4 linked regions of the Homo sapiens genome follow. The protein of the gene in region 2 purifies or fractionates together with the protein of the main gene of each other region. This does not show direct contact. Each region holds a gene or a part of one and is shown on either strand. Other genes may lie near its edges.

Region 1 (3,500 bases), on a different chromosome or scaffold from region 2:
ACAAAACCACGGAGACATGGTAAGGAACACAGATTTGAGGAACTCACACAACACTAAACAGAACAGAACATAGCAATATAAATAACCAGAAAGATAGCTAAGTTTCTAAAGAAAGGAACATATGGAACAGAAAAATAGTAAAACAATACATCAGCAAAAGCCAAAATATGGATACTGAGGTAGAAGAGCAATCTTTCAAGCAAAGAAGAAAGAAAAAAACCCAATGTGATCTCAGAGTTCTCAGCCATGCTCAATGCTACAATAGAAAAATGTCTACAGAATCGTGAGGGAAAGAAAGAAACTCAGCTAAGTTAAAAGGCAATGGATAGGGATTCTCGCATGGCAAGAATTCAAGCTACAATATCCATAAGGCGTTCTTTAAAAAAAACAAACAAAAAATGGCTGGATGACAAAACCTAGCCATACCAAGAATGAATCAAAATTTAAATTCAAGAATGGAGAAACGATGATAAAAGAACTAATGATAAATAAATAAAGAATAAATATAGACCAATAACTGTAGGAATGCAAATATTTTAAACCTTTGCAAAATAAAAATAAAAATGATGGGGTGGAGATAGATTGAAATACTTTATAAATCTTAAAATGTATAAATCTCATTAATCCTTAATGGAAATATCTATCTATAGCATTGTCTAGACTTATTTTTAAAAATGCTGTGATATTTACAAGCCCAAATCTATTCTTTAAAATGGTATAAGGAGTGTGTGTGTGATGAGGAGTAACTTACTATGGTGAACTTTAATAAGGGACCATCCCATCACCAGAGGTCTTTCAAAAATGATGAACTTGGCCAGGTGTGGTGGCTCACGCCTGAAATCCCATGCAAAGGCACACATCTTACATCTTGGCTCACTGCAACCTCCGTCTCCTGGGCTCAAGTGATCCTCCTGTCTCAGCCCCCAAGTAGCTGGGACTACAGGTGTGAGCCACCATGCCCAGCTAATTTTTGTATTTTTTGTAGAGACAGAGTTTCACCATGTTGTCCAGGCTGGTTTTGAACTCCTGAGCCCAAGCGATCCAACTGCCTTGGCCTCCCAAAGTGCTGGGATTACAGGTGTGAGCCACTGCACCCGGCCATGGTCTAGTTTAGTTTAAAAAAAGAGCTCTGCCTTGGCCAGGCGCAGTGGCTCATGCCTGTAATCCCAGGACTTTGGGAGGCCGAGGCAGGTGAATCACTTGAGGCCAGGAGTTCAAGCCCAGCCTGACCAACATGGTGAAACCCTGTTTCTACTAAAAATACAAAATTAGGCAGGCGTGGTGGTGCATGCCTGTAATCCCAGCTACTTGGAAGGCTGAGACATGAGAATCGCTTGAACCAGGAGGTGGAGGTTGCAGTGAGCCAAGATCACACCATTGCCATTGCACTCTAGCCTGGGCAACAAGGGTGAAACTCGGTCTCAAAAAGAAAAAAAAAAAAAAAAAAAAAGAAAAATGAAAATAAAAAAATTTCTTTGTATAGATGAATCCAACATTCCCAGGATTGCTTAATATTGTATAATAGGCAACAAAACCTCACCATAATCCTATTTGCTACAATGTGGTGACCCTCTCTCCCATCTTGGACTCCGCAACAAAAAATTTTACCAATGCTGTATTAGGACTTGAAAATTACCTCAAGGAAAATTTGACATTAAATGAAAAAAAATCTGAAAAGACATTCAAAACATTATTTTGAAATGGTGATCTCAGAGCTCAAAAAGTCATGTCTCTAGAAAATTATGTAAAACTATAAGGTAATACTTAAAACACAGTATATTCCATAAGGATGCCTAATATTAACTGCTGCATAATGGTTTTAAAATTGGTATTTTATCAATGTATCTCCTATTAAAGTTCTGCCAGTTTAAAATTTTCAAGAGGAATTAAATGAAAAGCAAAATAACAATGAAACCATTATTTCTCAAAGTATACTCTACAAACTGTGTTAGATTCACTTATGTTGTTTATTAAAAATACATATTCTAAGCCCCATCCTTGGAAATTTTGATTTATTAAACTGGAGGATACAGGAATTTTCTTTAAAACAGAAAGCTTTTGGGTGGCTTTTATGAACACACATTTGAGACTTAATTAACGAGTTATACCTTACTCCCCTCAAAGATCACATATATTGCCTAAGAACGCTATCACCTCTACATGGATATGTCTGATGCATAAATTTACAGAATAAATATTTCATATTAATTTTAAAAAATAATGCTGAAATTGCTTTTAAACCTATACTCTTCAATTCAGATAATTTGGTGATGAGAAAATAATGCTGAAACATACTTGGAATTTAACTGATACAGAAGTCCGTTTTTCTATTAAAAATAAGTGTTCTTACCATGCCATGATCAAATGTGAACACACCAACATCACGTCCATGATGAATATGATTCCGTCTAATAATTGGGTTTCCATGATTTTTAACCCAAATCCCAGCTAACGCATTATTGGAAATTTCATTATCCTCATATATTCCCTACAACAAGTTATCAGAAACAAACATCAGTAGAGCTTTTAAACATTTTCTAAAAAGAAAAAAACCACACAAAATTAAAAAATACCTGTGCATGATCTGTTATATATAGTCCAACATTTTCACAGTCACTGATGTTACAGTGCTTGATGGTGGGACATGCTCCTTGACCACTAACACATACTGCAGAACCAACTGTAGAAAAATTATTTATTTATGTAAAAACCTACTGGGCAACATACAGTGACTCAAAATTTTATTGTAAAATATAAAGAAAACACTAACCTGTACATGTACTTCGGATGATACAGTGATCAATAATAGGGCTACAATTTACTGTAATCTCTAAGCAGTGGTGTGCATTGTGGTGTTGTGCAGATTTGTCATCAGGGTTAAACTGAAAAGTAAAAATTTTGTTTGAAATAAACAATTACTGCCTTTATGATTTCAATGTGTATTTTAAATCTTAACATGTCTTACCCTTATTGTCATATATCCAACATAAGCATCTTCAGAGCCTTCCATAAAAACGAAGGTTGAATCTCTAGTGTTTTCAATTATAACTTTGTCTGCCACTTTCCCAGGTGCTGTGGAGAAGATATTTTAAAGAATATTACCTTTATTCGATTTCAACAGATGGGTATCTTTATGGAGGGGGAACTTACTAAAAACATTAGTACTGAGTAGTGGGACTAATATTCACTATCAGTTAACTATGTTTCATCATCAGCCTTTGCTATATTCAAATCCATGCACAGTATTACTTCTAATAACATTTAACTATAAATACTATGAATATAAAATGCAACGGCATATTAAAAAATGGTTTCTTGTGGAAACAAAAACAAAAAATGGTTTCTTGTGGAAACCATTCTGTTTCCAGCAGCAGCACTGGAAACAGAAGCTCAAGAAGAGAAGAGACCTCTATTTAAATTTATTTCCAACAGTGGCCTCGATTTAGAAAGTAATAAAATCACCAGACAAACATTTGCTCTAATCTATTCTCCCCATCTTC
Region 2 (3,500 bases):
CCAGCCCAGATTATCAGCAAGCCTTATACCCACAGCTTTTCTATCGCTTGCTGCCTTTATTTATTTATTTTGTCAACAGGGGAATATTAAAGGGTGGTTTAACATTTTGCTGGCATTGATTCTGCATGGGCTACGTAACTTCTGGTTAACCAATAATACTAGGTTGGTGGAAAAGCAATTGCCATTAATTGCTTTTAATGGCATTATTTTTAATGGCAAAAACCATAATTGCTTTTGCACCAACCTAATACATTTCTATTGGAAGAGACTTTTCCTAGTATTGTGCCCAAGCCATTATTGAAACCTGGTTAATTCAGTGCAGGTGTACAGCAAATCAATATGTGATCCATATATTTTGTTAATGTATACTAAGTATTTTATACATATCATCTCTAATCAAAATCATTTTGTACATATTCACATGTTTCAGATTATGAAACTGTGGTTAGAAGACTTAAATAGCTTCAGCCAATTCAGATCCAGACCCAGTTCATTTTGCAAGCAGATTTGCATTTTTTAGAATTTCAAGATGTAAAATGTGGCAGAAAAGTTAACATAAATAACATTAATTATGTTTTATCTTTCTTGTCCCTCACAGAAACAACCAGCAGCTACTTCACTAAATTTCAAAAAATAAAACTAAACATGTAATTCTTGGTTTTATGTAGAGATTAGAGACATGACATGAATAGACCTTACCTGGATTTAAAAAAGAACAAATTTGCTGTTGATGTCATGTGAGTTAACTGTATAACCCATGTTAATGTGAGTGTTTACTTGATTAGAAATGCTCATTGTTTTAAAAGATGAAGGATCCATGAAAGAGATGGGAAGGCATCCCTGCGTTCCTGTATATATACCCTTCACCTACTCAAATACTTCTGATAATAGCACCTTGCAGCCTGGAAATCCATTCTTCACTTCTCTAAGGATACTTTCAAACTCTACCTAGGACTTTTCAACTTGAGAGCTTTTCTTAGTGCCCAATTATCAGTTTGGGGAGGAGAGGCAACACTACACTGAATGAAAATACTCTCATGAGGTGTAGTAAAGATTTCTTTTCTCTTTGGGTCCTGCTAAGGTGCAAGCTGCTTGTTTATTCTGGGGCCAGCTGGTTTGGGCATACATGCTGAAATAATTAAATCAGAGATTTCTTGACACTGTCCCTTTCTATTACTTCCTATGTTGATTCCCATTCAGTTATTTTTGTGTTACCCTCTCCTTACACCTAGAATTTCCTAGGGAACTGAAATAATTTTCAACTCTATTAAGCAAAATAATATGGTCATTGAGTGACATTTCCTAGAGTGACATGACTAGCTCATTATGGAGCTCAATAAAATAAAGAAAACAGCAGTTAATTGACCCTACTCTCCTTGGAAGATCATCATTTGCTACTTGGGATGACCCTTCGGAATCACATCTTCCATAAGCAGTGTATCCAATAATTTTATAAACCCATACTGCTCTTTGTAGGAAGATTATTGTGCAGGAAAGTGATCTAAGTTGTCAAGTTAAGAATAGTAGCTACCTGCTTTTTGTATTTTTATGAAGAATATATCATAAATTGTTCATAATCTAATGTGGAACACATATTCCTCCTTTGTTCTACTCCAGGTGCTGGTATTTTGCCCTTCTAGATCCTCCTGTGAGGCATCACACCATCACCACCACCACCAGAAAAATAACTCCTGAAAGTTTAGAATGTTAGTGGGAAATAACTCTTATATTGCATTGATATGAAAAATTGTAGAAGTTTTATAGAAAATAAGTCTTATGTTGCCTGGTCAAAGCTGGCTACATTTGAATGGGTTTCTTTATAAAAATTTGTTTTAATAGACTTGTGATCTGAGGGATCAAAATTGATGCCCATTTATCAAACAAGATGGGCCTAAGGCTAAGGAAACAAAAGTTACTTAGGAGTCCAGTGTTCAGGACCCAGATGGCATGGCAAATTTCCAAATTCCTACCACTATAAGGAAAACTACACCTCAGCTAAACTTCTTAACAACAGAGCTCTCAGGCTGATTTACAGCCCAAACCACCACAACTCTGCAGGACAGAGGACTGACTTTACAAATATTCTTTTCTGATTAGCTATTGCAGAACTTAAGCCAGTTTCAGCCAGCTTATAGGGACTGCACACAAACTGTCTTTGTGTACTACAGTTCACCTTTTGACATAAAGAGCTGAATTCCATGTCATTTCAATGCTAAAACCTCACGTCAGAGTGAACATGGGATGTATGTTATACACATGTTTACCCACTGGGCATGCCCTCTCATAAATACATATAGCTTTTCCCCCAAAACATGCTGAATATGTATAATACAGGCCCTGTGAGGCATAAGACCTAACCTGTCATTCCCTTCTTTAAATAAAGAGCACCTTAGATCCACACTGGAGAGTTTCTCTTCTCAATTTGCAAGTTAATGCCAATAAAGCTCTCCTTTCTACTATTTAGCCATCCTGGTGGTCTTTCAAATGACAAAATGTATATCAAAAGATTACTGATTCAAAACTAGAGTTTGGTTTTTCTCTGTTAAAACAACAAAGTTTTCTTGGATTACTGGTCTGCCCTTAATAAGAAATTATAAAACTTTTTCTTTACCTGTTAAGTAATCTGCCTAGAAAACATTCTGTGTCTTATCAGAATAATTTCCTACGCTTTATGTTAACATTTATCACATCTTTAATTATTTATGAGAACCAAGTCCTCTCACTTAAAAAAAAAAAACTGAGTTTTTTTTTAATTTATTTGTTTGTTGTTGCTGTTTTTCTCTCTGCAAGTATGTTACCTCGTATACTTACTTTTGAAATCTTGTATTGTCACTTAAGTAAGTGGATAACTAAAGTATTGTTTCACAGTGACCTGTGATCCTATTTAATGCAGTGTTCAATCTTTTGACATTTTTGACAATTTGCAAAAATCAAATTCTAAATGAAGTCTGCTTGACCCCAAACCAACTTAGATTTTTCAGAGAGCCCCTGGAAAATCTCTAAGGATTCATGTTCTCTCACTTTGTAAAAAGAGAGATGTTAAACTAATTAGGTTCATTTGATATGTTAAAATGTATGGGAAGCATTGTCAAATAAGAAGAGTTACTTAAATTTCCTTATATTTGTATGGGTAGATTTTATTGTTTCAGAAATTTTATGAAGTTCCTAGGAATTGGTCAATAACCTTGATCTCCCTGATACGTCCTGGTATAATGTAGTCAGTCATAATTCTATGATTTAAATTCCATAAATTAAATATTGTATTCCACAGAAACCACCAAAATCCTTTGTCAACTGTGTTATAATGAATTCACGTCAGATATTTAACATAGCCATTTTAAGCTTTTTGTCATTCATAGGTAGTTACTATTAATACCAAACTAAGAAGCAAATGCTCCACTCAGATGTGGCTGATGACAACAGTGTCAAATTCTTGTGAATTATGTAATTTACCCTAGGTAATGTGATGAAGAAATAAAGTCACTGCAAATATATATATA
Region 3 (3,500 bases), on a different chromosome or scaffold from region 2:
TTACAAAATTGAGTGAGCAATGATGAAGGATAACAACCAGCCCGGCAAATTTGAACTCACGGGCATTCCTCCTAAACCCTTTGGATTTCCACAAATTTAAATAACTTTTTATATTGATGCCAACAGCATCTCAAATGTGTTTGCTGTTGATAAGAGATCAGGAAAAAAGAAGATTAAAAGACAAATGACCCAGTGTTTGCCCATGGAAACACTGAGTATTTGGTCCAAGAGGCATAGAAGTACAAAGCTGGAAAACGAGAAACAAAGAGACAGAGTTTCTTGTAAGAAGTTGCTCAGATCCTATGTATTCAATAGGCCACAGTGAAAAATGAGAGACGGCAAAGCAGAATCAAAGATGAAGTCAAACACAAGACTCCTGACAAGTGCAATGGAGTCATCAATGACTGGTCAAGAATCTCATTACTGAGAAGGAAGAATTTAACATCAGCCAAAAGAGCTGGAGAGGGTAAAAACCCTGCCGTTATCACAGTGTAACAGAGCTAGCACCATGCTAGGTGCTTTGCTAGGGACTTCCCTAGAAGTGGTTGCCCATCCTCTAGAGGTGTGTCTTCTGGAACCATGACTACAGAAACAGAATAAGGCAACCAAAACTCAACATGAAGTTTGAACATGAACACACAGTCATGAAATCCTACTCTGATTTGTAGGAAGTCAGTTTAGTGACAGTTTTTTTAAAAAATCATACTTGGGCTGCTATTTCATATATTATTAGACATTTTGAATATCTGAATATACACAGGGTAAGGAAATACAGTTGCACTTTATCCACATGATAAATAGGTAGAAAGTACAATTCATGATAGAGGACAAAGGCTTTTAAAGTTGGCATCACTAAAAAAATAAGAAAAACAGTGAGTCCAGACTACTTAACTTAGTGTAAGACTGTCCCTCCCCAGCCCCAATACATACCTACAACTTCCCATTTCCTATCACTGACAGCACTACTACCTTGAGACCACCGGAACTGGTTTCATTGTGTTCTTTATCCCTCTTTATATCATCAATACCAGAAGTCCCAAATTCCCCTTTTATACTTGTTTACTGCATTGTAATTCCCATAAGGCTCTGCACATTCCCTATTTTCTCCCACATCTTCTCCACCCCCTCAACTCCTGATATCCTTCCACTGTGCCCCTGGAACTCACAGTCTTTCACAATTCCATACAGCTTCAATATCTTCTCTGAATAGACCCTTCACCTCCTTGCTCTAACTAAAACCTGAATATTCCATGAGGATCCTGTTTCCTTTGTAGGCTTCTTAAGTGGTAGATGTTTTTCCCACATCAGTCTTCTAGTAAGCCTGGATGGAGTCTGTATCCTTCCTGAAACTCATTGCTACTTCCAGACTCTTTGCTCTCCCTCCTGTGTAAATTCTTCCCTCAGCTTTGAATCTCAGGCCATGAGACTCTGCCACCCTCTACCCCTTTTTCTTGCAGTCACCTACTAACTCTCAGATCATTTCTCCTCATTTCTTAAGGATCTTGGCATAATTCACTATTACTCTCATTAACACTACTCCTGTCTTAATTACTGATTTCAAAATCTACACAGATGTCCCTTTTAACATTTAGGCCCATCAGTTCCTTGAATTTTCTCCACCAGTGATATTTTCCTTGACACTATCTCAGCCAGTAATTCTAGGAGTTACACCCTACACTTTAGCAATATCAACAGTAAAAGCACTGAATAATCCTAGTTTCTAAACATTTCTACCTCTAACCTCCTACCTTTCCACTCACTCCTGCTAGTGCCTCAATTCCAACAATCCTTCAATCAATACTTGACCTACCATCCATTGATCATACTGCCATTCACCTCATATCCCCCGACCATATCCTTTGCCCAAGACTGTGGGAGCCCACCTCTTGCATCACTGTGACCTGGATGTGAACATGGAGTCAAAGGATATCATTTTAGAACTTTAAGACTGTCCCACTGGATTTTGGACTTGCATGGGGCCTGTAGCCCCTTTTATTTTGGACAATTTCTCTCATTTGGAACAGGTATATTTACCTAATGCCTGTACCCCCATTGTATCTAGGAAGTAACTAGCTTGCTTTTGATTTTACAGGCTCATAGGCAGAAGGGACTTACCTTGTCTCAGATGAGACTTTGGACGGTGGACTTTTGAGTTAATGCTGAAATAAGACTTTGGGGGACTGTCAGAAGGCATGATTCATTTTAAAATATGAGGACATGACGTTTGGGAAGGGTCAGGGGTGGAATGATATGGTTTGGCTGTGTCCCCACCCAAATCTTATCTTGAATTGTAGCTCCCATAATTCCCAATTCCCATGTATCATGGGTGAGACCTGGTAGGAGGTAATTGAATAATGGCAGTGGGTCTTTCCTGTGCTGTTCTCATGATGGTGAATAAGTCTCATGAGATCTGATGGTTTTATAATGGAGAGTTCCCCTGTACACATTCTCTCTTGCCTGACTTCATGTAAGACATCCCTTTGCTTTTCCTTTGTCTTCTGCCATGATTGTGAGGACTCCCCAGCCATGTGGAACTGTGAGTCCATTAAACCTCTTTCCTTTATAAATTACCCAGTCTCGGGTATGTCTTTATTAGCAATATGAGAACAGACTAATAAATCTTTCCTTAACTAGGTTAAATTTGATAGCAAATCATATAACCACTACCTTGAATACACCTTCAGTATACTTCACTTGCCCTTTCCTCACTTCATGGTGTTTGCTTGGCAAAACTCCCATCCATGTTAAATCCATTTTTTTTTTGCTTACACTGATATAACTGGCCATAGCTGAAGAAAGACACATACAGTCATAATTACTGTTTTAGGTTAGGTTCCCAATAAACAGATCATGAGAAAAAAAATTATATACAAGTGACTTATTAAGGAAATGTTTGGGGAACTAATAAGAAATTTGGGGAAGCAGGTCAAGAAAGGGGAGAAAGCTAAGCAAAGGTGTGATCTAAGACAAAGTCCCTTAGAGGGTAGCTTCAGCCTGATCTCACCAGTGTGTAGGTGGGGGTAAAGGTAATGGGGGAACTCTGCCGTGTCAAAGTTCAAAACATGTCTCTGAAGCAAGGATAATGAAAATTTCATACTTCTGAATCACTATTGGTTAAGGTCCACCTCAGGTACTACAACAGTAAGAGCAAAGGGTGCTCCAATAGCCTGAGGGCAGTTTACCAAAAAAAGAGGCATAGATGCTGTTTATTGGAAGCAAAAACCAACAAAGGCAGGACATGTACAGCAACACTAGAAAGGGATCCAAGAGGATCTGGACAAAGCATTAGTAATATCTACTGAAATATCTATTCTTGCTTCAAATTCATGACCTCAGCAAACCTCAAAGTGAACCACATCTGGCAATCATATTTCCTTAGCTCATTTATTCTCCCATTCTCTTGGATGGCTGTTTCATAATTCTCTCTCCTCAAACCTCAAACACTTTCTTCTCCATCTTCATTCTCAGCTAATTAATTACCTAGGTTCCTATTTCAACGA
Region 4 (3,500 bases), on a different chromosome or scaffold from region 2:
AATGGAAGATACATACGAATATATACATATATGTGTAAACATGTATAAATAGATACATGTGTGTTTAGAAAGAGAACACATACACGTGCAAAAAAGGTTTTGCACCTTATTCTTTTTGTCCCTAAACAATTTACTTCCTTCTGCCCATTCTTAAGACCATATTATGACAAAACACAGGGGAATGAATTTTCTTCCACCTCTCCTGTTTTGTGAAAGGAAACTGAAACATATTCACAAATGTGCCAAGTCTTTGACTGCCAAGTTTCACCCTACAGTGAATCTTCATTGCTGGTTATTATAAAATCCAGGGTGAAAAAAAATCGAGGTAGCATAACTTAAGATGGAAAAGTGAGGTTTACAAATAGACTGTGGTGCCAATACTGAGGACAGATACGATACACACAAATCTAACTATTATCACGTTGGATTTTGCAATGACCAGTGCACTAAGATCTCTTTCCTTGACACTTATTATTATTATTTTCTTTTTTCTTTACCACAAGGCTTGCTTGCAAAATTGGCACTTTCTTTATGAAATACAGTGTTACTAACTGGGGCCCCAACTGGCAGATGTCTTTGCTAGCTAGCAAATTTCCGTAGCATGCCCAGCTACCTCTGAACCCAGGGCATTTCCAAGGTTCTGGCTGTTCTGAATTTATGAACAAATACTGTCAAAGAACTTAGGCTTTTTACCTGCTCCACTGACATGGCCCTGGTCTCTGAGGAGTGAGTTGCATCCACATAAAACCCGGCTCCAGATATGATATGGACGCCAGTCTCTTCTGCAAGCCTCTTCAACGTCTGTGTGTCTCGGCTAATCCCAGTGGTTGTGTTTTCCACCAAAGCCCCTCCACCATTAGCTTTAAAATACAACAGTTCTTCCTTTATGGCTTCTGTCTCCTGATTTAATTGAAGGTTTTCTTTATGGGAATAGGCGTTTTTCTGAATCCAATATAAATTTTTCATCACGATAGGTTCTTTGGAAATAGCTTCCTGGCACGGGGGAGGTGGACAGTAACAGCAGTCAAAGGTCATGGCCAGGTGTTCATGGGTCAGGGTACGGCCCAGTTTGCTTGGCTCTACAAGGCCCAAAACGGTTTGGACTTTTCCACTTAAGGAAGACATTTCTGATGGTACCACCAAGAGATGTTCTAAAAAGAGGATTTCTTTTTTCTAAAAACAAACAAACAAACAAACAACTACAATCAGAATATTTAACACACACATAAACTCTTGTCCGTAAGGGGTGGGAGGCTGTGAACATATACCCATGTAAGAAGGCAAATCAATAAAACTAGAGATACGATCTCACAATCCTGCCGACTTCAGAATCTATCCCCACTGCAGATCTAAGTGACGTGCGTGGTGTTAATTGCCTCCCACCCCTTCTACTGGGAGTCCTCTGCCTGAGTTAGTCCTAACCTTATCTACTGGAAATATTCTTTGATATTCAGTTCACTTTTCTTTAACTTAATTGTATCTCTTAATCATAGCTATGCATTCTTGGATAAATCAACAGTAATTGTAATTAAAAAAAAGTATTCAGAATCAATAACTTACATCCAAACTAACCATGTATCAGTACTGTTTCATTTGTCACTTTTTAGCTAAATTAAATATCCTGAAGCAACTGATCTTTCCTCCTTTTTTTTCTTTTTGAGGGAGAGTCTTGCTCTGTTGCCCAGGTTAGAGTGCAGTGGTACGATCTCAGCTCACTGCAACTTCCGCCTCCGCCTCCTGGGTTCAAGGGATTTTCCTGCCCCAGCCTCCTGAGTAGCTGGGACTACACGCATGTGTCACCAAGCCTGGCTAATTTTTGCATTTTTAGGAGATGGGGTTTCCCTATGTTGGCCAGGCTGGTCTTGAACTCCTGACCTCAGGTGATCTGCCTGCCTCGGCCTCCCAAAGTGCCTGGATTACAGGTGTGAACCATCACTCGTGGCCACAACTGATCTTTCTACTGTTCCTCCACTACCCAAGCAAACAAATTTCTGTTGAAGGTCCATGATGTGTCAGAAATTAGAGCCATAAAGAAACAAAAGACAAGATCTCTGACTCACACGACTTCATAGAATATGCCCCTCCCCAAAACAACTGAGGAGCACACTCGGTTGAATAATGAAATAACAACAAGAAACGAACCTCTTCAGGTTGAATGCTTGATTGTCTAGGGCACACAGAAACACACTTCAAAAATACTGAAAAGCAAAGATTCTTAGCCATAATGAAAGCGATTGTGATTTATTGAAACTGAAATCGGCTATCTCTAAAAAGAGCAAAGCCCTCTCTATCCTCGATTTGCTTTCATTTGTAGCACAAATTAAGTGTTCACCAATGTCTATCAGTGATACCAAGAACTCCAATTCCAGTACTTTCCTTTAAAAGTACATTTCCTTTTAAAAAATTTGTTTAAATTAAAAATTAAATGGCCAGGTGCAGTGGCTCATGCCTATAATCCCAGCACTTTTGGGAGGCTGAGGTGGGAAGATCACATAAGGCCAGGAGTTTGAGACCAGCCTGGCCAACATGGTGAAAACCCGTCTCTACTAAAAATACAAAAATTTGCCAAGTGTGGTGGAGCGTGCCTGTAATCCTAGCTACTTGGGAGGCTGAGGCAGAAGAATTGCTTGAACCCAGGAGGCGGAGGTTGCAGTGAGCCGAGATCGCGCCACTGCACTCCAGCCTGGGAAACAGAGCGAGATTATGTCTCAAAAAAAAAAATTTTAAGTACATTTCCTAAATGAAGGGTTTATAAAGGAACAAGAGCTACTGAAAATAGTGAGGACAAACTCCTGCATGGCCAAGAGCAAAATCAGGACTCGAGTCCCAGACTCTGGGAACTGAAGAAAAGGAGCATCACGTGTTTCCAAGCTCTCAAACTGTTCCTTCAAATAGTGTTCTGAAGTCATCATTTCCCCCATATCCCTTGAAAGCCTTCTTTGACTTCCATTTTTGTCATCTGTAAATTAAAATAACGAAGCACATTTCATAGACTGTCGTAAAAATAAATTAGATACCACAGGTAAAAATACCTGTAGATGCATTTGGCACGCAGACCATATTCAACAAATAGTAGCTTTGTTTTGCGAATTCTAGGAACTATTCACGTATATCCTAGATTATTTCTTTTCAGAGAAAGTGGCTGATGAGAGGGGAGATGATTTGGGGGAACAAAGGGGAAAATTTGTGAAGGGTATAGTACACACGTAAGACAAGGTGAAAACAACATCAGAGGTCAGAGGGTGACAGAATTGTAGGCCAATTTATAGCAAGCCACTGCAATTATCTGGAACTCAGGTGTTTGCGATATATTGGCTTATAAGGCATAAATGATGGATTTAGACTTTTGGACAGAACTTAGGACTTGTGGCTAACATGGCCATTGATTTTGTTTGATAGTGCCTTTCTGGAAGCCAAACTTCTATCAGCTAGGCAATTCAAATGGTGGCTAAGAGAAAAGCAGGCAGTGTCTCTTCAGAGAATCACCACACAGCTGCCAG

The links. The genes of interacting proteins can lie anywhere in the genome.
Region 1: the proteins of KHDRBS2 (region 2) and FBXO11 purify together in Homo sapiens (affinity purification with mass spectrometry; one large-scale study listed by BioGRID and IntAct). This does not show direct contact.
Region 3: the proteins of KHDRBS2 (region 2) and ACAD11 purify together in Homo sapiens (affinity purification with mass spectrometry; 2 studies listed by BioGRID and IntAct, with this or other methods). This does not show direct contact.
Region 4: the proteins of KHDRBS2 (region 2) and PTER purify together in Homo sapiens (affinity purification with mass spectrometry; 2 studies listed by BioGRID and IntAct, with this or other methods). This does not show direct contact.

What each region holds. Positions count from the first base shown.
Region 1 is NC_000002.12:47,829,999-47,833,498, forward strand, and holds part of FBXO11 (F-box only protein 11), read right to left. Parts: intron 3,073-3,500; coding exon 2,966-3,072; intron 2,883-2,965; coding exon 2,771-2,882; intron 2,681-2,770; coding exon 2,574-2,680; intron 2,489-2,573; coding exon 2,351-2,488; intron 1-2,350. UniProt on the Homo sapiens protein: Substrate recognition component of a SCF (SKP1-CUL1-F-box protein) E3 ubiquitin-protein ligase complex which mediates the ubiquitination and subsequent proteasomal degradation of target proteins, such as DTL/CDT2, BCL6, SNAI1 and PRDM1/BLIMP1.
Region 2 is NC_000006.12:61,978,726-61,982,225, forward strand, and holds part of KHDRBS2 (KH domain-containing, RNA-binding, signal transduction-associated protein 2), read right to left. Parts: intron 1-3,500. UniProt on the Homo sapiens protein: RNA-binding protein that plays a role in the regulation of alternative splicing and influences mRNA splice site selection and exon inclusion. Binds both poly(A) and poly(U) homopolymers. Phosphorylation by PTK6 inhibits its RNA-binding ability.
Region 3 is NC_000003.12:132,649,810-132,653,309, forward strand, and holds part of ACAD11 (acyl-CoA dehydrogenase family member 11), read right to left. Parts: intron 1-3,500. UniProt on the Homo sapiens protein: Acyl-CoA dehydrogenase, that exhibits maximal activity towards saturated C22-CoA.
Region 4 is NC_000010.11:16,482,010-16,485,509, reverse strand, and holds part of PTER (N-acetyltaurine hydrolase), read right to left. Parts: intron 2,373-3,500; exon of another isoform or gene 1,576-2,372; coding exon of another isoform or gene 1,561-1,575; intron 1,174-1,560; coding exon of another isoform or gene 1,126-1,173; coding exon 694-1,125; intron 1-693. UniProt on the Homo sapiens protein: N-acetyltaurine hydrolase that regulates feeding by catalyzing the hydrolysis of N-acetyltaurine into taurine and acetate. N-acetyltaurine has anorexigenic and anti-obesity effects that are dependent on GFRAL receptor and GDF15.